7 linked regions of the Homo sapiens genome follow. The protein of the gene in region 3 interacts with the protein of the main gene of each other region in a biochemical or structural test. Each region holds a gene or a part of one and is shown on either strand. Other genes may lie near its edges.

Region 1 (3,500 bases), on a different chromosome or scaffold from region 3:
TAAAGCCACTTGCGAAGGTCAGCTAAGGAATGGCTTAATGGACTCACAGCAAGCCTTGAACCCCAGACGATCTGAAACAGAGAGCACAACCTGGCAGTGCCAGCCTCTGTGGGGCCTGTGGGGTCCTGAGCACTGTTCAGGTATTGCCAATTCCCAGGTATCACCTAACGATAGCTCCTTTCCCCCAGGGTAAGTGAATTTCAGTGGGTTAGTGGAACATGTTTGTAAGCCATTTTAAAAATCCTCAGCAACAAACTGAAAATTGTCCTTTTTTTTCCCCCCTCTGAATGACTTCTGAACCTATCACAATGGAATGGGAAGTTTCTCTGCTCTGCTGAACACATTCAATAGACATACCAAGGCCTTTCCCTAAAATGTTCTACATAGATTCTTCTAACAAAAGAATAAAAATCACTGATAAAATATTTATCTTAAAATAGTTATTTTAGATAATGTTTTAAAAGTTTATTGCAGCAAATTTACACATCGGTTTCCTTCCTGGTGACTAAAAGACAACTCAATCAATATCTGATAAAGCTAAAATATCATGAGAATTAAAGTCACTGTTTATTAGTGAAGGTGTAACCTGTACTAAATGCCTTGCAAAACTCAAATAAGACTTGGTTTCTGGCCTCAAAGAACTTAAAATCTTGTATCTTGTTCTGCGAACCTAAACAATCCAAACTTTTAAAGTAGAATAAATTATTTCAACCTAATCTAAACTCTTAGAACTTAAGAGTCCTTGAAGCTCAAAATGGGCTCTTATTTCAAGAGGAAAATATTTTCATGCAATTCAATAATAATTAGATTTTTCCCATCATTTGAGACTTACGAAATTTAGTCTCTGAAATAGGCTCATATTAGATTTGCTTCTAAAAATCAAAAGGGAGAAAAATAGGAAACACTTATTAAAGAAATTCATAGGAAAATGATTTAGATATCTAAGAAAAGAGATAAAGTAGGAGGATGATTTTAGCTCACTAATTCATATTTTTACGTCTATGCCAGTAATTTTCCATCAAAAACCTTTCTATTAAAACTCATTGTCACACATTTCCTATACTTGGAACAGAAGGTCCATATCAAAGATTAGTATTATTAGCATTTGTAAATGCATCTAATTATTTACCAGATAACACCATCAATATTGTGCCCATTCAACCTAAGGAAGCTGATTGCCAAAAACAAAAACAAAAGCAACAAAAGAGAAATTCCTTTCTCTCCTCAATTTATATTTATCACTTTCTTTAAAATCCGATACCTCACTCCTTCTAGAAAGCCTCTGAACAGACCAGGAGAGATCATTTCACTTCTCTGTATCCCCATCACTGAAATTTCTGTTGAGCTATCAATTTGCACTTGCACATATACTGCTTTAGGAAGGCTTCAAATAGTTGTATTTTGCCTCCTTAACTAGCTTTTAAAGTTCCTCAAGGGCAGAGACTATCTTCTATTCCTGCTGTAATGCCACACTTTCCCTAATGCATCTTGAAAACAACTCAGTTATTCTGATTAAAGAAAAGGAGGGAAGGCATAAAAGGTTCTTGTGAGGCTGTCAGCTTTTTATTCTTCTGTGGACCCTCCTGCAGCAGGGCTTTTGCCTGGCTTTGCCCTGCCCAGGACCACTGAGAGTAATCTGGTAATACGCATTTAGGTGAGAACCATGTTTTGAGCCACTTCCAGAGAAAATAATCGAATGAGTTATTGTCCATTCTGAAGTTATACAGGGATAAACTCTGTTTAAACAAATTGTCTTAGGTAGAACTGGACTGGACTTCAGGAAAGCCAAGACATACTAGAGCCCCTAGCACTGGTCAAAGGCAGCGAGGGGACTTCTCCCAGGGCCAGAAAGCACTGATCTGCCAAACCCAGAGAGGGAATGGGTGGGATCACGATGTCAGGGGTTACACTTACAGTCTACATCCTAGCAGAGATTTGGAATCTCTGGGCTCCTAAACTACTGCTACTTCTCCTCTGGGTTCCCAGTAAACATTATGAAGACTATCCCCTGTCATTAATAGAGTTAATGAAATCAAATACCAATTCTTCCGTCTCCTGATAACGAGACAACACTCGGATTCACTTTCTTATAATGGGAGTTCGCACTGACGTTAAAGTGTCAATGAGGAATTTCACCTTTTCTTTTTGTAAGCAAAACAGAAAAATCCTCTATTTTCATTTTTTCCCAGTATGGAATGAGTACTAGATAACCTTCCCTTTAATTTGCACTTCACATGGTGACCCTGACCAGTAGGTCTCCTCCCAACTCGTAAAGGTTTACCTTTTCATAAAGTAGCCAAAAATAAATTTATTCTTCTATATAGATATTTTTAGGTAAAAGTTACCTACTGTGCACTTCTAAAACTGTAACTTATCCTTAATAAGAGTTGTTGTTTGAGATCCTTGAATATAAATAATACTGGCTAACAGACTAGGAATGCTGCTACGGAGATACTTTTACTAAAGTAGGACATTATTTCTAATCTTTCACTAGAAACGATGTAGGCCATCAAGTAAACAGCTACTACATTCTATAGAACCAAAAATATCTGCCAAATTCTTGGGTGACTGTATTATTATTTTTTAAAAACATTACTCTCTACTTTCAAGACTAATTATTTCTATCTCCACTCCAGCAATTCTATTTAGTCTATGAACAAAAGGGCAAGAAGAGATTATTCATCTTTGGATTCTCCACAAAACCAGTAAAAAATATTTGCTGAATCAAATTATACTTAACTTTTGATAAGCTTTATCATCTCTAAACAATGTTTAATCAATTTCCTATGTAAATGTTTCTCAGAAGAAAGAACAAGTCCTAGAAGCAAAGTTTAATCTTCCCAGTGAGTCATTAAAAAGAAATTGCTTCTAAGCTTTCATGCTCATAAATACCTTTCCTGGGGTCTGAACCAGCAAGTCTCTTAAGCTACTACTTTAAAAAAAAATTGTTTGAAATTATCAATACACAAAATAAATTTCAAAGCTGCAAATGAAAAAAAAATGGAAAAGAATGAAAAGAATGTTTAATAAAATCTAATACTAAAGGCTAATAAATGTGATACTTCCTCTGCAATAGTTTTCAAATAGAGACTCAAAAAACCACTGAGTCCTAAATCTCTTCCTGCAAAAAAGATTTTGCCTGTGTTATCTCTACCAATAAAACAGGTTACACATTTAACCACTATTATTTCTCGATTCACATTGTAAGATCTCCATCCATTAAGGCCCAGAGTGAAAACCTTTGTATACAGTTTTCCTAAAAAGCCTTTTACCCTTTTCCCACAGTTCCACAAAAAGAAGAGTAACTTATGTTCAGAACACTGAATGTTGCTTTTAGTAAGTACCTGCAATGAAAATATCTTTATTGTCAATATTATCGATTTTTTATTTTTTATTATTATTATTTTTTCAGATGGAGTCTTGCTCTGTTGTCCGGGCTGGAGTGTGGTGGCATGATCTTGGCTCACCACAACCTCTGCCTCCCAGGTTCAAGCAATTCT
Region 2 (3,920 bases), on a different chromosome or scaffold from region 3:
TTGGCTATGAGAACAGCTTCTCCCACACCTTCAAATGTTGCCACTTCAGTAAGGCTCTTCCCATTTACAGCCTTAAGTTGTGACGCTTTTTACTGGTTTTCCCCGTCCAGTTCCTTCTAACATAGTGGAGTATGCTTGTTACCTCCCCTTCGCTAGAATGCAAGTTCCAGGCCAGGCAGGGATATTGGTTTTGTCCTTTCTACTTCAAACTCTGCCTAGGGTATAGTGGGCGTATGTCTACTGATGGAAATAAATGAATCAGTGCTTTCATGTCAGTGTGTAACATTTTCTTGGGTTTAGATGTACCTGCTATTGAAGAGGCAAAGTATCCTCTTGATATACTTTATTTCTCTGTAACCCTGGTACTAGAAATGTAGTATAAAATTATTTTTATATTTTCAAATAAAACATTCTGAAAATGCAAAACATCTAAATTAAATGGATGATTATCTTATGGAAAATACTGTGTGAATAAACTCAAAGGAATCCCAAACAAATAATTTAACAGTCATAATAATCCTTTATTAGTACCAGCTCTTAAAATTTTTTTTTTTTGCCAGAGCTAAACAATTTAATATAAAAAATGCCATTTTTTGTCCATACAGTATTTATAAAAAAGTACATAGTGGTTAGTTTTGCAATAATTTCTTTTTAGCCAGATGTCATATCATCATATAAATCTATGAATATAACAAATGACATAAGAACAGTATAAATAAGTTTTTGTAGTATTTACACTTACACAGAAACTAGCCCAAATGGTGTCCTAAGAAATTGTTTACAGTTAAAGTGAAACTACTGATTCAACATACTGACACTCCAATGCTTTTTAAAGTTTCGTATTATTTTCTATACTAGTTTTGGCTATGATTTTGCATAGAATTACTTATAAAGTATGAGCATTTCACATCACAGTAGGAGCTTTTAGTATAATAGTACAAAAAAACTAGCTCAGAAAAGGTCAAATCCTCCTAAATCTAGTTTTTCTTAACATCTGGCTTCTTACTTTTGGGAACAAGGAAAACATTGCCATCTCTTGTTTGCTGCAGGGAGTATTCACTAGGAGAATAAGGTTTTCCATCTTCATCACGTAGCATGCTGAAAACTTCGAGATATAAGGTGCTGAGTTGTTTTTTCAGTAGGTGAAGGCTTTTGTCATTTTCTCCTTTTTCTTTGAGCAATTTTTCTTTTTCATCTTTCAAATGATCTAAATCTTGCTCTAGTTCTACTATATTTTCCAGTTTTCTTTTTCTGCAATTCTGAGCAGCCACTTTATTCTTACCCCTCCTACGTATATCCCGAATTAATGCAAGTTGAGCTTCATTGAACTGCTCTTTGGACATCATTTCGTTGAAGTCAACAACAGGGAGGTTAATGATTTTTTCTACAGGGAATGGGATATGGAGAGCTTTTGCCCTAAGTTCATCTCTTGTGAGATGAGCCTCCAAGCGGCTTGAATGTTTGTCTTTTGTGAATGGGGTTTTCCGATGACCAGGACTTACAGGCAATTCTTTCTCTGGTGTGTTCTCACATTGGGCATCATGCACGTGAGTGCTCTGCCCCTGAGATGGTGACAAGGGTTGTACCATATCCCCAGAAGAATGTACTGGTGTTTTAGGACCATTCTGTTTGACACTTCCAGGGGCACTATCTAGCTCTTCCACTTCAGAATCACTGAGGCCAAGTAGTGTGTCTCCATAGCTGGAAGATTCCACTGAGTGTTCTGGTGATGCCACACTGGGACTTGTGTTTAGTGAAATGCCGGAGTCAGAATCATTGAATTCTGCTGTGCTTTCAGGGTGGTTTTGGTTGAAAGCTTTGCAAAGTGATAGATCAGAAACATCAATGGGCCCATTTAGAAGTTCAGAGAGTGAATGGCTTAAAGTAGCAGGTGAGGGCATGCTGTTGCTGATACTGGGCTCAGCTATGAAAGCAGAATAAAATTCATCACCAAAATCTGTGTTGACTGTGGCATCTGAATTTAATGAGTTCACTGTCAACTGGTTGGGGTCTTCTGTGGAGAGGATGCTGCTGAAGGAATCCTCAAAAGCATTAAGAAAATGTGGACTACAGTTACCTACTTCTTTTTCCATTGAGGGTATAGATGAGTAAAAATGATAATTGTCAACTTCTGTCAGTTTGGCTTCTGGACTTGGAACCATGGTAGTCTCAACCAGCTTGTCATTTTCAATATTAAGACACTGCATGAGAAGGAAGTTTATACTATATAAATCAAAGTTAATCCATGATAATACGTGATAAATTTAGATAAACTCCCTACCCACATTATCTTCAGGCTTATCTCTATAATTTATTATCTATAATTCAGAGATAATTCTCATTTCCAATACATATTTACGCCTAAGCGTTATGTATTATTTTCAGAGTTCCCAGATCAGACGTCAGGTTTATAACATTCTATCCTCAAGATGTCCAACCAATTTAACTAGCATGGGCAGTACTCATGACTAAGTTAATAGCACCCTCCAATCCTTCCTATAAATAGGTGGTATATAAATAATCAGAATGACTAAAGGCACTGAATATAAAAAAAATCTCCAGTATTACATTCTATTTTAGTTACCTGTAACTCAGGAATGGATAATAGCTCCTCCCAAACTTGCTCAATGTCCTGTTGCATACCGTCTAAATCAACAGGGGCTACCTGAGCAACAGAAGTTTCAGGTGACTGAGCCTGATTAGTAGCAATGAAGACTGGGCTCTCGATGTGACCGGGAATATCAGGAACAAGTGACTGAAACGTAGCCGAAGAAACCTAAAATTGATAAGGCATTGATTTATGAGTCTTCCACCAACAGGGGATGAGTAAGCTCTAAGGCACCACTACAAAACAAAATGGAATCAGCTGCAGTTCTGTGTCTCTCTACTTACTAACCAGTCATGACCCCGTTTGTAAATAACAAATCTTTTTTTCCTACCCCACTGACTCAAATTTATAATTTGCTGGTCTGTTTCAGCTTAAGCATTTGAAAGTAAACTTTAAAATGCGTAAGTACAATCTTTAGGATTTAGTTTATATAATATCTAGCACAGTGGTACTAGATAAAACAGATTTATTAAAATTGTTAACTGAACAAGTCTTCGTTTATTGCCCAGCTGGCTCTTTACTCACCAAACCTCTTAGATACTTGCAGCAAATGGGTTATTTGTTTCCATGGTTATGCTGTCCATGTTTCTGGCTATGCAATAGTCAATGGTTTTGGTTTTGTATTGTGTGAAGGGTTTTTTTTTTTCTTAATTGTAAAGTTATTTATAGGCTAAGGTTTCCTTGACAAGAGTATTTCCTTGGTTAAAAAATTTCCTCCTAAAAATGTTTTTATTCTTTTAAATGGAGATTCATTGACGGGACTTACATAGAATAGATTGTTATTTTATAGTTATGATGGAGTTTTTCTATTAACCAGGTTATTTTATACCTCACCTCATTGTCATCTACAAACGGGAATGTCTGCGCCAAAAGCTGCATGCAGTCATCAAAGTACAAAGCATCTGATTTGGGAATGTGGGCAACCTGATAAAAGGGAATGACACAAAGGAAAACAAAAATGGTTAAATATTCCATTGCCAAGCTAAATATTCAATAATTGATGTTCATAAAATATTTATAATCAAGTTAAGTAAATATTTATCTTATTTCAGAGATCACTTTGATGCACAATTTGAACTAGACCACATGGGTTCAGATCTTAGCTCCTCCAATTTTCTGAGTGATCTGGGCAAATTATTTAACCTTTGTGAGCTTCAGTTGCTCATCGTAGATAAAACAGGGATAATGGTAACTAATTAATATAGTTGTGTTAATTAAATCAGTCAGTATATGTTCTTAAAACAGTGCTTGCCACACACAGTAACGCCAGTAATCCCTGCTACTTGGTTCTCCTGCTACTACTTCTGTTGCT
Region 3 (3,500 bases):
AGTGGCACGATCTCAGCTCACTGCAATCTCCGCCTCATGGGTTCAAACGATTCTCCTGCCTCAGCCTCCTGAGTAGCTGGGACTACAGACGCACACCACCACGCCCCCGCTAATTTTTGTATTTTTAGTAGAGACGGGGTTTCCCCACGTTGGCCAGGATGGTCTTGATCTCCTGACCTCGTGATCCACCCGCCTCGGCCTCCCAAAGTGCTGGGATTACAGGCGTGAGCCACCGTGCCAGCCGAACTAAATTGTGTTTCTAAATCTTATACCACATCAAATGCATTACAGACACAAGTATATTGGAATAATTTACTAAAAATGTCCATTATGTACTGAGTATTAGCTCATTTAAAAAAATAGAAAACTCAATAACGTAAAATGGAATATTCCTTTTTTATATAAATTTAAAGGCAGAAAATCTCAGGGAAAACAAACTTCTTTAACTCTACTCAGTTTTTCCTTGCTGTTCTATTCACATAGGTTTTTATATAAATATACATTTATACATTACACTCAACAAATTTCAAAAGCAATTTGATTTGTATAACCAAGGATGATTTGTATAACTCAAGATAAAATGCCAAGAGTGCAACCTCCGCTTTAATGAAAATGCTCTTCTTCTGAACAATGAAAATGCTTTTATTCTTGAAATCGGGGAAAACTCCCCTTCCACCACCACCACCCCACACACACACACAAAAAATCAGCTAGAAAATGATAAACATTCCAACAAATTAATTTACTTATGGTGATTATGTTCTTAGAAGAACAATATCCGGGGAACCCGGTTGGTCCTGTTAGTACCAACACACACTCTTGTCTCACCCACACAAGCGTTCTGCCCCTCCATTCTCCATTATAGGGTGGAGCATCACAAGAAGCACCACAATCTCACATCCTGTCTGTCATCTCCAACCCTGTCTCAACTTCATGGGTCTTATTTAAAAGTATGGAACTGTGACAATAGGGTCAACATATGCATGTTTCACAGCCTTCTCTATGCATAAAGTGCACACACAAATAGAGCTCTCCCACTCTTTAGACTCTGCTGCTGGAATAAAATCTCTGACTTTCCCAGCCTTGCTGTTTCTCCAAAATATTATCTCACACCTGCAACTCAATTCTAATATAAGGGCTACACAGTAAAGCGTGCAAGTACTGATTTTCAGCTGAACTTTGCCAGTGAAATGAGAAGATGTCACCTCATTTTCTAAATGCAGTTCCCAATCAGCCATAAGGTGATTTGTGAATCACTGGGTTCCCTTGAAGTTTTTCCTTTTGCCTGTGACTTACTGTCACTTCACAATTAGCATTCTACAGGTGCATGCAACAAGAAAGCATGCAATTCTTAAATATCTTAAACGTTTTAACAACTCTGGGGAAGTCGGGTTGGGAAATGACTGAAAATAAAGTTCTGGTTTTCAGTCTCACACATGAACTCTTTTCCACATTAACACAGGATTATCAAGAAATGGACTAAACTCTAATAACCTAATTTTTAGATGTCATAAAGAGATTAAACTTCCCAGGGGAATACGGAAACTCTAAGTTGCTACCTACTCTTTGGCTTTAATCACCATACGACGTAATACTGCAGAATAATATGCAGCTACTATTATTCTCTCTTTGCTAATAGAAATTTTGATCTAAAAAAGTTTTATATGAGGAAACAACTTAAGTGATACAGACTTATTTTCATATTTCTAAATCTTATATTTAAGTATTAAACCTAAACAACTAGCTAAATTTTCTCCAATTGTATATACCAAAAGGATTACTAATATTTTAACCAAAAGTGCCACAAACAGTCCCTTACTTTCCCTATGGAGTAAAATATCATGTGATTCTAAAGAAAAACTTTATAAACATTTATTTAATTACATGTAAACTTGGAAGTGAACAAAAATGAAACATTGGTTTCACTATAGCAAGTAAAAAGTAGTATTTCAAATATACTGATTTAAATTTGGGATTAATGCCTAAACTCAACAAAAAGGGCAAAAAATACTTGTTATAAAATCAACTTTTAATTTCTTCTGGAGTCTTCACAAAGTGAAGGCTCTCAATACTTTATTCTTAGATAAATTTTGCATTTAAAATAATAGTAATAATCATTATTTATAAAAAACAAGTTTTAAGCATATATCAAAGATTAATGGCTACATATCTAAAATGTTACAGTCACAGTTTAGTCCCAAAAGTATTTTCATTGATCTGAAATAAGCCATCATGAAACTATTATAACCAGGTTTCAAGTGTGAGGCTTTTGAAGCTGTATATAAAAAAAAAAAAAATTAGGACTTTGATGAGAAGCATTTAAATAAAAGCCCTTAGTTTACTGCTCCCGAATATAAATCCAACATCTTTAGGTGTAGAAAAATTAGAAACTGTGCAATTAATAGACTAGGAAGTCAAATATCATTGCCAGTAACTAACTGCTGTCTGAATTTCAAGGGAACTTATTGTATATTAAATTTTAAGAAAGTGAACTCACCTACCCTCTCACCTCAGCACTTTCTCAATTTTCCCATTACAATTAACAATATAACTTAGCAGTCAAGTCTTCCAGGCCAGTAACATCAGAATTTATTTTTAACTCTTGACTCCTTCACAAATATTCCACTTCAGTCCAGTATGAAGTTCTGCCAGTTCTTCATTCACACTGTCTCTCAAACCTGTTCCTTTCACCCCACTTTCACATTTTACTTTATTCCCTCATGATTCACAACATACCCTACTAGCTCCCTAAAAAGGCTCTAGCATCTCTCTACTATAATTCACTAATTCAACTGCAAAAATCATCTTACGTCTTATTCAGCAACCAACAATAAATCCAGATCTCTTCTGAATCTCAATCAAACTTGTACAGAACCCCTCTGCCCTCCATCAGCTAACTTTCTCTTATTTCTCAAATTCCATCTGTTCTTATGTTCTTATTTAGGCCCCTTTAATTCAGATTTGTCAACTTGATTATTGTCTCTCATGCAAAACTCACCATCATTGTTCCTTGGTACACTCCTTCCACCTAGACCTTTCATGCTTTTCTACCAGTTCAAGTTACCACCTCCTTTAACATCAGTCCTAATACACCTTGTCCGCAGGAAGTCTTTCCTCTCCCAACCATCAGTCTCACCCCTTTACTCTTTGCCACTCTGAACAAATGATTCAATTTGTATTTTACAATCTTGCAGTCATCACGCTATTGTTTTAATTTTTTTTTCCCCATAGCCTCCCTCTACAACTAAAGGATAAGCTTTTGAGAGCAAGGACTACAATTTCTTATGTCTGTTTTCAACAGGGGTTCCTTAGAATGCTAGCATCCTAACAAATGCTTAAAGACTCCCCTTTCTTTTAAATGCTTTTAAAGTCAAAGCTGTCAAAAACACATAATTAACACTAAACTCCAACTTTTAAAATTCTAAATTGACCTATATGGTAATCGGAATTAAACATTTTCATCTATATATTTTACAAGAGTTACTCCATCCTTAGTTAGT
Region 4 (3,500 bases), on a different chromosome or scaffold from region 3:
GGGCGGCAGAGGTTGCAGTGAGCTGAGATTGCGCCACTGCACTCCAGCCTGAGCGACAGAGCGAGACTCCGTCTCAATTAAAAAAAAAAATCAATCCTCTTTGGTTTAATGTAAGGTCAAAATTTAAGCATGGGCTTGTGTGATTCTATAGCTCATCTTCTCTTCTTTCACGATGTTACCTTTGATAATAACTAACATATGTAATGTGCTTTACAATTTAGAATGTTTTCATATATGGAATCTAATTTAACCTACATAATATATCATAGGCCTCATCTGAAATATGAGGAAACAGTAGTTCTGACTGTTACTCATCAAAGGTCATGCACCCAGTGATTATGACCAATATAGGTCTAAGGAAATTACTACAAGGATTACTGGCAGAAGGGACAGTCCAATGAGGTAGCAGAAAATGTTAGGCTTCCTTCCCTTTCAAGGCCTAAAAAATTAGCTAGAACCATAGAAAGGTTAAGTCACATGGTAATATATGCTGAGATGTCTGTGTTTTTTTTTTCTTTTCTTTATTTTTGAGATGGAGTCTCACTCTGTCATCCAGGCTGGAGTACAGTGGCATGATCTCAGCTCACTGCAACCTCCACCTCCCAGGCTCAAGTAATTTTCCTGCCTCAGCCTCCTAAGTAGCTGGGATTGCAGAGGCATGACCCAGCTTTTTTTTTTTTTTTTTTTTTTGTATTTTTTTAGTAGAGATGGGGTTTTGCTCTGTTGGTCAGGCTGGTCTTGAACTCCTGACCTCAAGTGATCCACCTGCCTCGGCCACCCAAAGTGCTGGGATTTCAGGTGTGAGCCACTGCGCCCAGCCAGATGTCTGTATTTCTGTATTTAAGGTGAATAAGATGATTACAGAAATAAGAATAAAATTTCAAACCATAATATTTTATAAGTACCAGGGAATGCACAATGGCAGCAGCCTTGTCCGGTTTAAGAAATCAGCTTTAATCCACTTGGTTCAACATCTGACCATCTGAGATCAAGCTATTCTCAGTCTGTACAGGTAAACGTGACTTTTCACTATGACCCATATCCTCGAAAATACATAAAACTATATCATAACAAGGTGAATCACATGTATCCATAACAAAGACTGGGTACCAAATCATACCAAAATCAAATCCCAAAATGTATCAAACAGCAGAGCTACAAATGTATCACAATTTAAAACAATAAAAGCCCATGCCAAGTCCTGCAAAATGGACATAAGTATGTTTTTATCATATAAAGGATAACCTATTATTAACCACATACAGAGCAGATAAAATATATAATCCATAAATTTGGCCTCAAATTCCTGTTTTTGTTTTTTGAGATAGGGTCTTGCTCTGTCCCCCAAGCTGGAATGGGGTGCCCTGATCTTGACTCACTGCAACCTCCACCTCCTGGGCTCAAGTGATCCTCCCACCTCAGCCTCCAGAGTAGCTGGGATTACAGGTGCACGCACAACCATGCCCAGTTAATTTTTCTATTTTTAGTAGAGATAGCATTTTACCATGTTGCCCAGGCTGGTCTTGAACTCCTGGACTCAAGGGATCTCCCTGACTTGGCCTCCCAAAGTGCTGGGATTAAAGGCATGAGCCACCATGCCTGGCCTGGGATTGTTATGTGGAATTTTTTTCCTTGACAAAATCTCAGATAATCAGGCTTAAAAACTATTATAATGGGTTTTGAATCGTTGGAATCAACTAGTCCTTAAGCCCAGCCACCCTGGGTTTTTTGTTTGTTTGTTTGCTTGTTTGTTTGTTTTGAGACAGGGCCTCACTCTTGTCACTCAGGCTAGAATGCAGTGGTGCCCTCATGGCTCACTGCCACCTTGACCTCCCGGGCTCAAGCGATCTTCACAGGCGCGTGCCATCACATCCAGCTAATTTTTTTATTATTGGTAGAGACGGGGTCTCACGATGTTGCCCAGGCTGGTCTCAAACAATCCTCCCACCTCAGCCTCCCAAAGTGCTGGGCTTACAGGTATGAGTCACCATGCCTGACCCTGTTACTTTACAGATGAAGAAAGTGCAGTATAAAATAATACACTGGATAAATAAAAAATGTATTTTGAAAGACTTCAGGCTGGGCGCAGTGGCTCATGCCTGTAATCCCAGGACTTTGGGAGGCCAAGGCAGGTGGATGACCTGAGGTCAGGAGTTCGAGACCAGCCTGGCCAACATGGTAAAACACTATCTCTACTAAAAATAGAAAAATTAACTGGGCATGGTTGTGCGTGCGCCTGTAATCCCAGCTACTTGGGAGGCTGAGGCAGGAGAATCACTTAAACCCAGGAGGCAGAGGTTGCAGTGAGCTGAGATTGCACCAATGCGCTCCAGCCTGGGCAACATGAGCAAAACTCCGTCTCAAAAAAAAAAAAAAAAAAAGGCCAGGTACGGGGGCTCACACCTGTAATCCCAATACTTTGGGAGGCCAAGGCGGGCGGATCACAAGGTCAGGAGTTCAAGACTAGCCTGGCCAACATGGGGAAACCATGCCTCCACTAAAAATACAAAAATTAGCCGGGCGTGGTAGCACATGTCTATAATCCTAGCTACTCAGGAGGCTCAGGCAGGAGAATCACTTGAACCCAGGAGGCGGAGATGCAGTGAGCTGAGATTGTGCCACTGCACTCCAGCCTGGGGGACAGAGTGAGACTCTGTCTAAAAAACCAAACCAAACCAAAAAAAAAAAAAAGACTGCTGGGCGCAGTGGCTCACACTTGTAATCCCAGCACTTTGGGAGGCTGAGGCGGGCTAATCACGAGGTCAGGAGATGGAGACCATGGTGAAACCCCGTCTCTACTAAAAATACAAAAACATTAGCCAGGCGTGGTGGCGGGCACCTGTAGTCCCAGCTACTTAGAGAGGCTGAGGTAGGAGAATGGCATGAACCCAGGAGGCGGAGGTTGCAGTGAGCTGAGATCGCACCACTGCACTCCAGCCTGGGCGACAGAGCGAGACTCCGTCTCAAAAAAAAAAACAGAAATGTTAACTATAGAATGTTGAAGGGGGGGGGGGGATTAAAACAACCTGTAGACAATATGATCGTCATTATTCTATTTCATAAATTTTCTATAATAAACACATATCTCTGGCCAGGCACGGTGGTTCATGCCTGGAATCCCAGCACATTGGGAGGCCGAGGCGGGCAGATCACATGAGGTCAGGAGCAAGACTCCGTCTCAGAAAAATAAATAAATACATAAAATAAAATAAGCCAGGTGTGGTAGCACACCTGTAGTCCCAGCTACTTGGGAGGCTGAGGCAGAAGAATCGCTTGAACCTGGGAGGCGGAGGTTCAGTGAGCCAAGATCTCACCACTGCACTCCAGCCTGGGTGACAGAGCTAGACTCTGTCTGAAAAATATATATATTATATATGTAATATATTTTACATATTATATTGTGTTATATATTATATATATTTTACATATATTGTATTATATATTATATATAATATATTATACATGTAATATATTATATACTATATTATATATATCATACA
Region 5 (3,500 bases), on a different chromosome or scaffold from region 3:
AGTGTGATGGCACGATCTCGGCTCACCGCAACCTCAGCCTTCCAGGTTCAAGCAATTCCCAGCCTCAGCCTCCCGAGTAGCTGGGATTACAGGCATGCACCATCACACCCGGCTAATTTGATATATTTTTAGTAGAGGTGGGGTTTCTGCACGTTGGTCCGGCTGGTCTCAAACTCCGACCTCAGATGATCCACCCACCTCGGCCTCCCAAAGTGCCGGGATTACAGGCGTTAGCCACCGCACCCAGCCCGAATTAAACTCTTCTTAAGAGGTAGGACTCCCTTGGCTCGTTTCCTCCAGTTATACCTAGGGTAAGGGCAGCGTGTTCTCCACACTCCCCTTTCTCATCCTTAACAAGTCAAAAAAGACCAACACGCCTGCCCAGCTTTAAAAAAAAAAAATGAAAAAAAATTCTTTTGCTTTTTGAGACAGAATCTGGCTCTGTCACCCAGGTTGGAGTGCAGTGACACAATCTCGGCTCACTGCAACCTCCACCTCCCTGGCTCAGGCAATCCTCCCACCTCAGCCTCTCAAGTAGCTGGGACTACTGGCATGCTACCACACCCAGCTAAATTTTGTATTTTTTTTTTTCCTAGAGACAGGGTTTGCCATGTGCCCAGGCTGGTCTCAAACTCCTGGGCTCAAGTGATCCATCTGCCTCAGCCTCCCAAAGTGCTGAGATAACAGGCATGAGCTGTGTCCAGCCCCAACTAAAATTTGGGAGGATGGGGTTGCCATGGAGCACCCAGTCTTAATTACAAGGACTAGAGAAATTCTGCCCCCTCCCTTCCTCAGCTTGTCCAACAGTCAGAACTCTCTTCTCTCTCCTTCTTTCTCTTCCTCTCTCCTCTTGGTGCCTGTTGGACCTCACTGGTGACAGTGACACTGTAGCAGGTGGGGGGAAGTGTGGCCAAAAGGGCAACATTAGATGCAAACCCAAAGCCTAAAAATAACCCCACCAACTTCTTCAGGAGGCTCTCCTGGCCATCCCACCATGTACACCCCAATGCTCCACCCAGTGTAACCAGACCCAGGCAGAGAAGAGTGCTTTTGGCCTCCTAAAGTTAGATATGAGCAGCTCAGCACTTTTACTCTGCTCCTATATGAGGACCAATGACAGACACTTCTGCCCCCGGCCCCATGCAGGCATCTATTTCCACTCTCCCCCAGCCACTCAGAGAGGGTGGAGGAGGAAGAAAGGAAATGGAGAAGGCCCTTCTTCCTCAGCTATACCATCCTGTGCCTGGCCCCTCTCCAGTCTCCTCTTTCTTTGGAGAAGGAGCCTGACTAGAATATATCTTGAAGGACCGTTTCAGTCTCCACACCTGGGGCTTCTTAGGGAATAGACTGACCCTTTAAATGGAAGAATGGCTCAAATGGGAGGTGGCTGTAAAAACTCAATTAACTCTTTCTAGGGTTGCCAGATTTAGCAAATCAAATATAGGATACCACTTAAATTTGAATTTCAGATGCACAACAAATTTTTATTTTTTTTTTTTAGATGGGTTCTCTGTCACCCAGGCTGGAGTGCAGTGGTGTGAACATGGCTCATGTTCATGCATCCTCTACCTTCCAGGCTCAAGCCATCCTCCCACCTCACCCTCCAGAGTAGCTGGGATTACAGGTGTGCGCCACCAGACCCAGCTAACTTTTTAATTTTTTGTAGAAACAGAGTCTTGCCATGTTGCCCAGGCTGGTCTCCAACTCCTGGACTCAAGCAGTCCTCTTGCCTTGGCATCCCAAAGTGCTGGGATTACAGGTGTGAGCTACCACACTTGACCCAAATACTTTTTTAGTATAGATATGCCTCCAAATATTGCTTGGGACTTACTTATACTAAAAAAATTATTCATTTGCATCTGAAATTCAAATTTAAGTGGACATCCTGTATTTTTATTTTAATGTCCCAAATATTGCATGGGACATATTTAAAAAAGAATTCATTGTGCATCTGAAACTCAAATTTAATTGTATATTCTGTATTTTAAAATTTCAATTTTATTCTTTGCCTTATCTTCTTCCTTTTTTCTTTTTTCTTTCTTTTTTTTTTTTTTTTGAGACAGAGTTTCACTCTTGTTGCCCAGGCTGGAGTGCAGTGGCACAATCTGGGCTCACTGCAACTCCACCTCCTGGGTTCAAGTGATTCTCCTGCCTCAGCCTCCTGAGTACCTGGGATCACAGGAACCCACGACCACGCCCAGCTAATTTTTTGTATTTTTAGTAGAGATGGGGGTTTCACCATGTTGGCCAGGCTGGTCTCAAACTCCTGACCTCAGGTGACCCACCTGCCTCGGCCTCCCAAAGTGCTGGGATTACAGGTGTGAGCCACCATGCCTGGCTGCCTTATCTTCTTTCTAAAATTTTTTTAAATTTTTATCTTTATGTCCCAAATATTGCATGGAGCATACTTCACTAAAAAATTATTCATTGTGTATCTCAACTTCAAAATACAAGACTGGACTGCCCCACTGGGCATCCTGTGTTTTATCTGGCAATCTATCTTTAACACTTACCTTTACTGGGAAGGAATTTTCTCCCTAAGGGTGTGGTATTCTCCAACCCTTCAGTGGCTCTATGATGAAAACTGGGTTTCAGAGGTGGGCTGTAACTCACCCTGGAGCTGTTGCGGGCTCAATATATCTGGGGGTTTAACAAATTTATAAATTTTCAGGGAGGGGATGTTGACTGCATTTTGGAGGTTCAGGGCCTACTAACAAGCTGTCAGAACAGGCACCAGGCTTTGAGATAGTGATAAAGTTCCAGACTCACCATTGAGCTGTCAGAGAAAACATCAGGGTGGTTCTCATAAATAAACTTCTCCACCCTCATCTGCCGCAGTTTGAACATCTTGGAGCCCCGGTTGGTAAGCAGCGACAGTTCCTCCAACATCACATCCCTTGGGACACTGATCTTTTTGCCCAGGTTCAAGCCTGAGCTCTCCTGTCCACCTTTCAGGGAGGCAAAGAAGAAGAATCAAGGGAAAGAGGAAAGTAGGGTTTTCTGGGCTCAGAATGCAGACCTCATCCACAACTAAGTGTGTATGTGTGTCCTGGCAGAGGTCATTTAGGGGAACAAATGCTGTCTAGTTTGTGAGGGATTTTGATTTCCTGGGACTTGGAGAGAATGCATGGGAACTGGGGTGCACTGTGGAGATAATGGGAATACTAGAGTGGAGAGGCCAATGGGGTAAAAGAGGTACGGGCATGGGGTACAGAGCAAAAGGAGTAAAGGAACATCATAGATGGAGGCCATTGGAGAAACCATGGCATCAGGAAAAACCCAGAGGCCAATCTTGTGTGGAGTCCAAATACAGATGCCATATATATATATATATATATATTTGTTTTTATTTTTTATTCTTTTTTTTCATTTTTTTGAGACAGAGTCCTGCTCTATCATCCAGGCTGGAGTGGAATGGCGCGATCTCAGCTCACTGCAGCCTCCGCCTCCCAGGTTCAAGCAATTCTCCTGCCTCAGCCTCCCAGGTCGCTGGGATTGCA
Region 6 (2,296 bases), on a different chromosome or scaffold from region 3:
GCCCCTCCCGCTGCCAGCACTAAGGAAAGAGCGGGGACCCAGACACTGGAAGGAGAGGGGCCCCGGCATGGTGCTGGGCTGCAGCCAGGGAAGTAGCCTCACCGCTGACGTCTGAGATCGTCAGGTTATATCGAGAGGCTGCTTCCGTTTTATACTGATTGAACTGTGTCTCCACGTCGTGGACATTGATGGTACCTTCTCGGAAGGCCAGAGTCAATTGTACCACCACAGATCCTGGCCTGGTCACAGGGAAATGGGCACTTCAGCCACGGGTCCCAGCTCTGGCTCAGCACTCTTCCCCCAACCTTAAGTGCACCAGTCCCTCCCTACGGTCATGACCACCACCCACCCTCCAACCACCACACTGGGTCCACACCCAGAACTGTACCTGAACTTAATATTGGAGAGGCCCAGAAAACCCCCTTGTTTATAAATCTGCAAAAACTGGGGTGAGAGGGAAAGGACTCAGGCTTGATGCAAAGGGTGTGGACAGTTCTGATGGCTGCTTCAGGGGAGCATGGGGAAGGAAAGGCCGATACTCACCATTTCAGAAATGTCTCTCTGCAGCTCTTGGTAGTAGTCGGTGCTGGGATCTTCCAGAGAGGAATTAAACTGGAGGTTTGAAATGTGAAAAGACAGGAAAAAGAAAGAGACCCCAGTAGACAACTGGGGAGAAGTGCTGTGATTGGAGGAGGTGAGAGGAGGTACCGTGCTATGGTGAGTGCTACTGGCATCAGTCTTGGTGCTATGGCTGGCAAGGGTGGTAGGAGTATCAGAGTGGTGGCTGGGAATTGAGAATGGAGTGCTCTTGCTGGCTGGGGTTGTGGTAGCCCTGGCAGAGGTGCCGTTGTGCACCAGAGTAGAAGCTGAGCCTGATGCAGAGCCTGAGGCCGAGGTGACATTGTGGACTGGAGGGGCGGTGGAGCCCAAGGCGGGCCTGTTGTCCGGGGCCGAGGTGACACCATGGGCTGGGGGGGCGGTGGAGCCCGGGGCCGGCCTGGTGTCCGGGGCCGAGGTGACACCGTGGGCTGGGGGGGCGGTGGAGCCCGGGGCCGGGGTGGAGCCCGGGGCCCGCCTGGTGTCCGGGGCCGAGGTGACACCGTGGGCTGGGGGTGCGGTGGAGCCCGGGGCCGGCCTGGTGTCCGGGGCCGAGGTGACACCGTGGGCTGGGGGGGCGGTGGAGCCCGGGGCCGGCCTGGTGTCCGGGGCCGAGGTGACACCGTGGGCTGGGGGGGCGGTGGAGCCCGGTGCCGGCCTGGTGTCCGGGGCCGAGGTGACACCGTGGACTGGGGGGGCGGTGGAGCCCGGGGCCGGCCTGGTGTCCGGGGCCGAGGTGACACCGTGGGCTGGGGGGGCGGTGGAGCCCGGGGGCCGGCCTGGTGTCCGGTGCCGAGGTGACACCGTGGGCTGGGGGGGCGGTGGAGCCCGGAGCCGGTCTGTTGTCCGGGGCCGAGGTGACACCGTGTGCTGGAGTGTCGGTGGAGCCCGAGGCCGGCCTGGTGTCCGGGGCCGAGGTGACACTGTGAGCTGGGCTGCGGGCGCGGTGGAGCCCGGGGCCGGCCTGCTCTCTGTTTTAAATATACACCGTGGGCTGCGGGCGCGGTGGAGCCCGGGGACGGCCTGGTGTCCGGGGCCGAGGTGACACCGTGGGCTGGGGGGGCGGTGGAGCCCGGGGCCGGCCTGGTGTCCGGGGCCGAGGTGACACCGTGGGCTGGGGGGGCGGTGGAGCCCGGGGCCGGCCTGGTGTCCGGGGCCGAGGTGACACCGTGGGCTGGGGGGGCGGTGGAGCCCGGGGCCGGCCTGGTGTCCGGGGCCGAGGTGACACCGTGGGCTGGGGGGGCGGTGGAGCCCGGGGCCGGCCTGGTGTCCGGGGCCGAGGTGACACCGTGGGCTGGGGGGGCGGTGGAGCCCGGGGCCGGCCTGCTCTCCGGGGCCGAGGTGACACCGTGGGCTGCTCTCGCGGTGGAGCCCGGGGCCGGCCTGCTCTCCGGGGCCGAGGTGACACCGTGGGCTGGGGGGGCGGTGGAGCCCGGGGCCGGCCTGGTGTCCGGGGCCGAGGTGACACCGTGGGCTGGGGGGGCGGTGGAGCCCGGGGCCGGCCTGGTGTCCGGGGCCGAGGTGACACCGTGGGCTGGGGGGGCGGTGGAGCCCGGGGCCGGCCTGGTGTCCGGGGCCGAGGTGACACCGTGGGCTTGGGGGGCGGTGGAGCCCGGGGCCGGCCTGGTGTCCGGGGCCGAGGTGACACCGTGGGCTGCGGGCGCGGTGTAGCCCGGGGCGGGCCTTGTGTCCGGGGCCG
Region 7 (4,130 bases), on a different chromosome or scaffold from region 3:
TAGTGGGGCTGCCCTCCATCAAACTCTCCGCTCCCCCCTCCTCCCAAGTGCCCCAAGGCCCCAGTTCCAAGCAACCAGACCAGTGCTGTGATTTTTTTTAAAAGATGCAAAACTTTTTAATTAAAAAAAAAACCAACCCAGCAAAATCTTATAAAAACGAACCAGGTAGCCCAAAAATGCCCACCTGTCTCTCTATGTACAGTAATACAATATTTGTCAGTCACTATATACAATATTATAAAAAATGCCGCAGACAGTACAAATTAAGGCCCTTATTTCTCACAAGGCATCACAAGCCTCGATCCTCTAGTGTAGACCCGGTGGGAGAGAAGATGCCACTTAAATTATTGCACCATTTTGAAAAACAAAACTCGTCAAGGAGGATCGTGGTCTTTTCCCACCGGGCCTTCAGTCACAGACGGGGGCTGGGGTGGTGGCGTCGTCGTCGTCGTCATCGAGGGAGACCCTCTGTAGCCACGCTGTGCCCGGCCCGGTTCTCTGGGTCCAATAAATACCAGTCACAGTTTGGGAGGGGGCCGCGCCCGGCGCGTGGGACCCGCCACGGCCGCGCGCAGGTGGGCGGGGGCGTCCCGGCTACATGTGCCGTTTCATGTGCAGCGCCAGGTGATCGGAGCGCGAGAAGGCACGATCGCACAGATGGCACTGGAATGGCCGGTGGCCCGTGTGCTTTCGGTAGTGGCGCGTGAGCTCGTCTGAGCGCGCAAACTTCCAGCCGCAGCCGTCCCAGTTGCAGTGGTAGGGCTTCTCACCTGCAGGGAGGGGGCGAGAGTAAGCGTCAGTTCCCCTCCCAGGACAGGGCACGTATGGCTACCCCGGCGAGCGCAACCTATCCCTAACCAGGGCCTTGACGCGCTCCCCGCGGTAGTGTTGCGCCCCTGAGGGATCCTTGCCCTACATCCCCAACTCCCCCCACAATCCGGATCCTCACCCCCAGGGGGTCGGAGGAGCGCAAGGTCCACTCCCCACTGTTGTCAGCCACGCTCCCCGACGGGTCCTAAGCATGCACCCTCTCTCCAGCATTCTAAGACACGGAATCTCTCAAGGTTTCCCAGCGAACACTCCCTCCCCAAGGTCCTGAGCCTTGTCCCCAGAGGAGTCCCAAGCCTGAGCGCCCTCCCCAACTTCCTGAGACGCAGCATCTCCCCGGGGTTCCTAAACGCGCACCTACTCCCCAACTACCTGAGCCTCAGCCCCGGGGATTCTGAGCCAAGTGCCCAGCGGCTCCTAAACCTGCTCCCCCTCCCCAACTTTCTGAGACTGTCTCCCTAGCCACGCCTCCAGGAGGTTTTCTAAGTGCTCTTCCCAACCTCCGGAGGCCCCCCTCGTCCTAAGCGTGCAAGCCCCCACCCCAACCTCTCGGATCACACTTCCTTAGGGAGTGTTCCTGTGTGCCCCCCCAACCAACCTCCCGAGCCACGCCTCCTGGGGAGTCCTAAGCGTGCACCACCTGCCAGATCCCCCTGAGCCACGCCCCAAGGGAGGTCCTAAATTCATTTTCTGGCGCGCGCTGGGAATCCGACCTCTCCTCCCGCGTCCCCCCGCCTGCGCTCCTGGCTCGTGCGTGCCGCCCACCTGTGTGCGTGCGCAGATGCGCCTTCAGATGCGAACTCTTGGTGTAGGTCTTGCCGCAGCCCGCGTAGCTGCAGGTGTGAGTGGCGGTGCGTTTGCGGGGCCAAGAGCGGCGGCCGCGCTTTGGCTTGGCCTCCAGCAGCTCCAGCGGGGACGCAGGCGGCGTGAGGAGACCGCGGGCGGCGGGGGGCGCCAGGCCCAGGGCTGCCGCGGCGGCGGCCGCGTCGTCGAAGAGACCGAAGGCTGGGGGCGCAGGCGGCGCGTAATGCAGGCCGGGCCCGGGCGCGCCGAAACCAGGGCCACCGAAAGGCGGCGGGAAGGAGGCGCGCGGACCGGGCGCGGGCAGGCGCGCGGGGCCGTCGGGGCTGAGCGGCGGTGTGTCGGGCGGCGGCGGGGGGCGGCCCCCGGGACCTCGCATGCACGAAGCCGCCGGGCCCGGGGCGCCCTCGCGCTTGAGGCCGCGCGGTCCACGGGTCAGCCCGGGGGCGCAGCCGTAGCCGCCGCCGCCGTCCGCTTCAGGGGGCTCGGCCTTGACCAGGCGGCCGGGCGGCGCCAGCAGAAAGCGGCCGTGCAGTGCGGGCCCCAGCGGCGCATCCAGCTCGGGTCGCAGCAGCTCAGACACCAGGCCACCCGCGGGGGCGCTGTAGGGCGGGGGCGCGCCGGGTTCGGGGTAATAGAACGCAGGCGGCGGGGGCGGCGGCGGCGGCTCCGGGGCGGCCTCGGCGCCCAGGCCATCCAGCCCCATGGACAGGATGAAGTCCAGCACGCTGTTGAGGTCGTCGTCGGTGCCGCCGGACTCGGGTTCGGCGCGCGGCCAGCGCTGCGGGCGACAGGGCAATGGGCGTGAGCGGGCGGCGGGGCTCGGGGGGCGCTGCTTGCCTTTTACCACCCTAAGTCCGCGATCCCCGTGGCCCGCATCCTCCTCTCCTGAGTCTGCAGTCCCCGCCTTCGCGTCCTGTCACCCCGCAGCCCACGTTCTACTACCCCGAGCCCGCCGCCCACGGTCCCGGCCGCCCCGCCGTCCCCGCCGCCCTCACCTCCTGCAGGCCGCGCTCGCGGCACGGGCTGGCGAAAGTGGAGAAGGACGGCAGGATGGGTTCACTCAGCGCCATGGCCGGGACCCGGGGAGAAAGGACGCGGACGGGGACACCGGTGAGTGGCTGCCCGAGGCCGGGCTGGTCGGGGCGCGGGCGGGCGGGGACGGCTCTGTGGGCCGCGGCCGGGCCCGCCCAAGCCTTATAGGCGCGGCGCGCGCGGGGGCCGGGCCAAAGCGGCGGCGGCGGAAACGCGTCCCGGATGGGGACGAGCTCCGGGCGCAGCCTAAATTTAGCCGCGGTATATAAGCCGGCGGGCGGCAGCGGCCGTGGCCACTGCGGCGGCCTGGGCCTTGCGCTGACAGCCCGGCCCCTCGCGCGCCGCCAGGGCCGCGCCTCCCCCTCTCCCGGGCCCCGCCCCCGCCCGTCTCCCCGGCGACGTTGTCAACACGCGCTCCACAACAGCGGCGTGACGCTCAGGGATCCCCCGGGCGCCCCGGGCTCCCGCCTGCGCGAGCATCCCGGGGACCTGGAGCGGGGGCGGTGTCGGGGCCTCTCAGAGACTCTCAGGGGAGCACCGGGCTTGGCGGTCTCCCCGGATCCCTTGACGGAAGGGGAGATTGGCTCCAGCCTCAGAGAGGGCTGCAGAACCCTGGATGGATGGGAAGTCTGGAGTCTCCAGGATTCATGGATGGGTGAGGCTGGGCCCCTCATCTGTTGTGGGACCACCCAGAGGGACCCACCGTGTGCACATCACCCTGTAAAAAAAAACACCTTGTGTAGACCTGGTGCAGTGGGTCACATCTGTAATCCCACCGCTTTGGGAGGCTGAGACAGGAGGATCACTCGAGGCCAGGAGTTCAAGACCAGCCTGGGCAACACAGTGGCCCCCATCTCTTAAAAAATAAAAAAAATTAGCTGGGTGTAGTGGGAGGCTGAGGTGGGAGGATCGCTTGAGCCCAGGAGGTCGAGGCTGCAGTGAGATACAATCACACCACTACACTCCAGCCTGGGTGACAGAGGAGACTGTCTCAAAAAAACAAACAAAACAAAACTTTTGTGTGGTAACATCAAGACACATTAAATCTTTGACATTTGAGACACCCACCCCCTCCTCCCCAACCTCAATAAGCCCGTCAAGTGCAGGGAAACTGAGGCAGAGGTGGCTGGGAGAAGTTGGAGTTGCGGCAGGCACAGGCAGGCTGGGTTCCTTTACTGACTTCCATAAATGAATTAAGTAACTCAGAGGACGGTGATGACAGTCATTCCCCCAATACAGCTCCAGCATCGGGGGCATCAGAGGACAATGCTGCCCAATGGGTCCCTTCAATGCTCCACCTCTGTCCCCCACACCATATCCCTGCTGGCCAGGGACTGTCACTCCTGTTACAACTGTCTGCCAGCCCTGGGTAGGCACTGGGGACACAGTAACCAAGAGATAGACAAGATCCCTGCCCTAGGGGACCTCCACTTTAGTGAAGGAGGGAAGGATAGAGGTTTATTCAT

Evidence for each region.
Region 1: of the proteins of GSK3B (region 3) and KLF5, one has a biochemical effect on the other in vitro, tested with the Homo sapiens proteins (2 studies listed by BioGRID).
Region 2: of the proteins of GSK3B (region 3) and NFE2L2, one has a biochemical effect on the other in vitro, tested with the Homo sapiens proteins (2 studies listed by BioGRID).
Region 4: of the proteins of GSK3B (region 3) and XIAP, one has a biochemical effect on the other in vitro, tested with the Homo sapiens proteins (one study listed by BioGRID).
Region 5: of the proteins of GSK3B (region 3) and MYOZ1, one has a biochemical effect on the other in vitro, tested with the Homo sapiens proteins (one study listed by BioGRID).
Region 6: the proteins of GSK3B (region 3) and MUC1 form a complex in vitro, tested with the Homo sapiens proteins (2 studies listed by BioGRID).
Region 7: of the proteins of GSK3B (region 3) and KLF2, one has a biochemical effect on the other in vitro, tested with the Homo sapiens proteins (one study listed by BioGRID).

The regions. Positions count from the first base shown.
Region 1 is NC_000013.11:73,069,005-73,072,504, reverse strand, and holds part of KLF5 (Krueppel-like factor 5), read right to left. Parts: intron 1-3,500. UniProt on the Homo sapiens protein: Transcription factor that binds to GC box promoter elements. Activates the transcription of these genes.
Region 2 is NC_000002.12:177,229,808-177,233,727, forward strand, and holds the end of NFE2L2 (nuclear factor erythroid 2-related factor 2), read right to left. Parts: intron 3,533-3,920; coding exon 3,443-3,532; intron 2,777-3,442; coding exon 2,585-2,776; intron 2,202-2,584; coding exon 978-2,201; 3' UTR 501-977; downstream 1-500.
Region 3 is NC_000003.12:120,087,948-120,091,447, forward strand, and holds part of GSK3B (glycogen synthase kinase-3 beta), read right to left. Parts: intron 1-3,500. UniProt on the Homo sapiens protein: Constitutively active protein kinase that acts as a negative regulator in the hormonal control of glucose homeostasis, Wnt signaling and regulation of transcription factors and microtubules, by phosphorylating and inactivating glycogen synthase (GYS1 or GYS2), EIF2B, CTNNB1/beta-catenin, APC, AXIN1, DPYSL2/CRMP2, JUN, NFATC1/NFATC, MAPT/TAU and MACF1.
Region 4 is NC_000023.11:123,866,553-123,870,052, reverse strand, and holds part of XIAP (E3 ubiquitin-protein ligase XIAP), read right to left. Parts: intron 1-3,500.
Region 5 is NC_000010.11:73,634,975-73,638,474, forward strand, and holds part of MYOZ1 (myozenin-1), read right to left. Parts: intron 2,949-3,500; coding exon 2,770-2,948; intron 1-2,769. UniProt on the Homo sapiens protein: Myozenins may serve as intracellular binding proteins involved in linking Z-disk proteins such as alpha-actinin, gamma-filamin, TCAP/telethonin, LDB3/ZASP and localizing calcineurin signaling to the sarcomere.
Region 6 is NC_000001.11:155,187,620-155,189,915, forward strand, and holds part of MUC1 (mucin-1 isoform 10 precursor), read right to left. Parts: coding exon of another isoform or gene 1,621-2,296; intron 1,316-1,620; coding exon of another isoform or gene 998-1,315; coding exon 544-997; intron 445-543; coding exon 389-444; intron 240-388; coding exon 103-239; intron 1-102. UniProt on the Homo sapiens protein: The alpha subunit has cell adhesive properties. Can act both as an adhesion and an anti-adhesion protein. May provide a protective layer on epithelial cells against bacterial and enzyme attack.
Region 7 is NC_000019.10:16,323,496-16,327,625, reverse strand, and holds the start of KLF2 (Krueppel-like factor 2), read right to left. Parts: upstream 2,801-4,130; 5' UTR 2,703-2,800; coding exon 2,628-2,702; intron 2,411-2,627; coding exon 1,594-2,410; intron 771-1,593; coding exon 595-770; 3' UTR 1-594.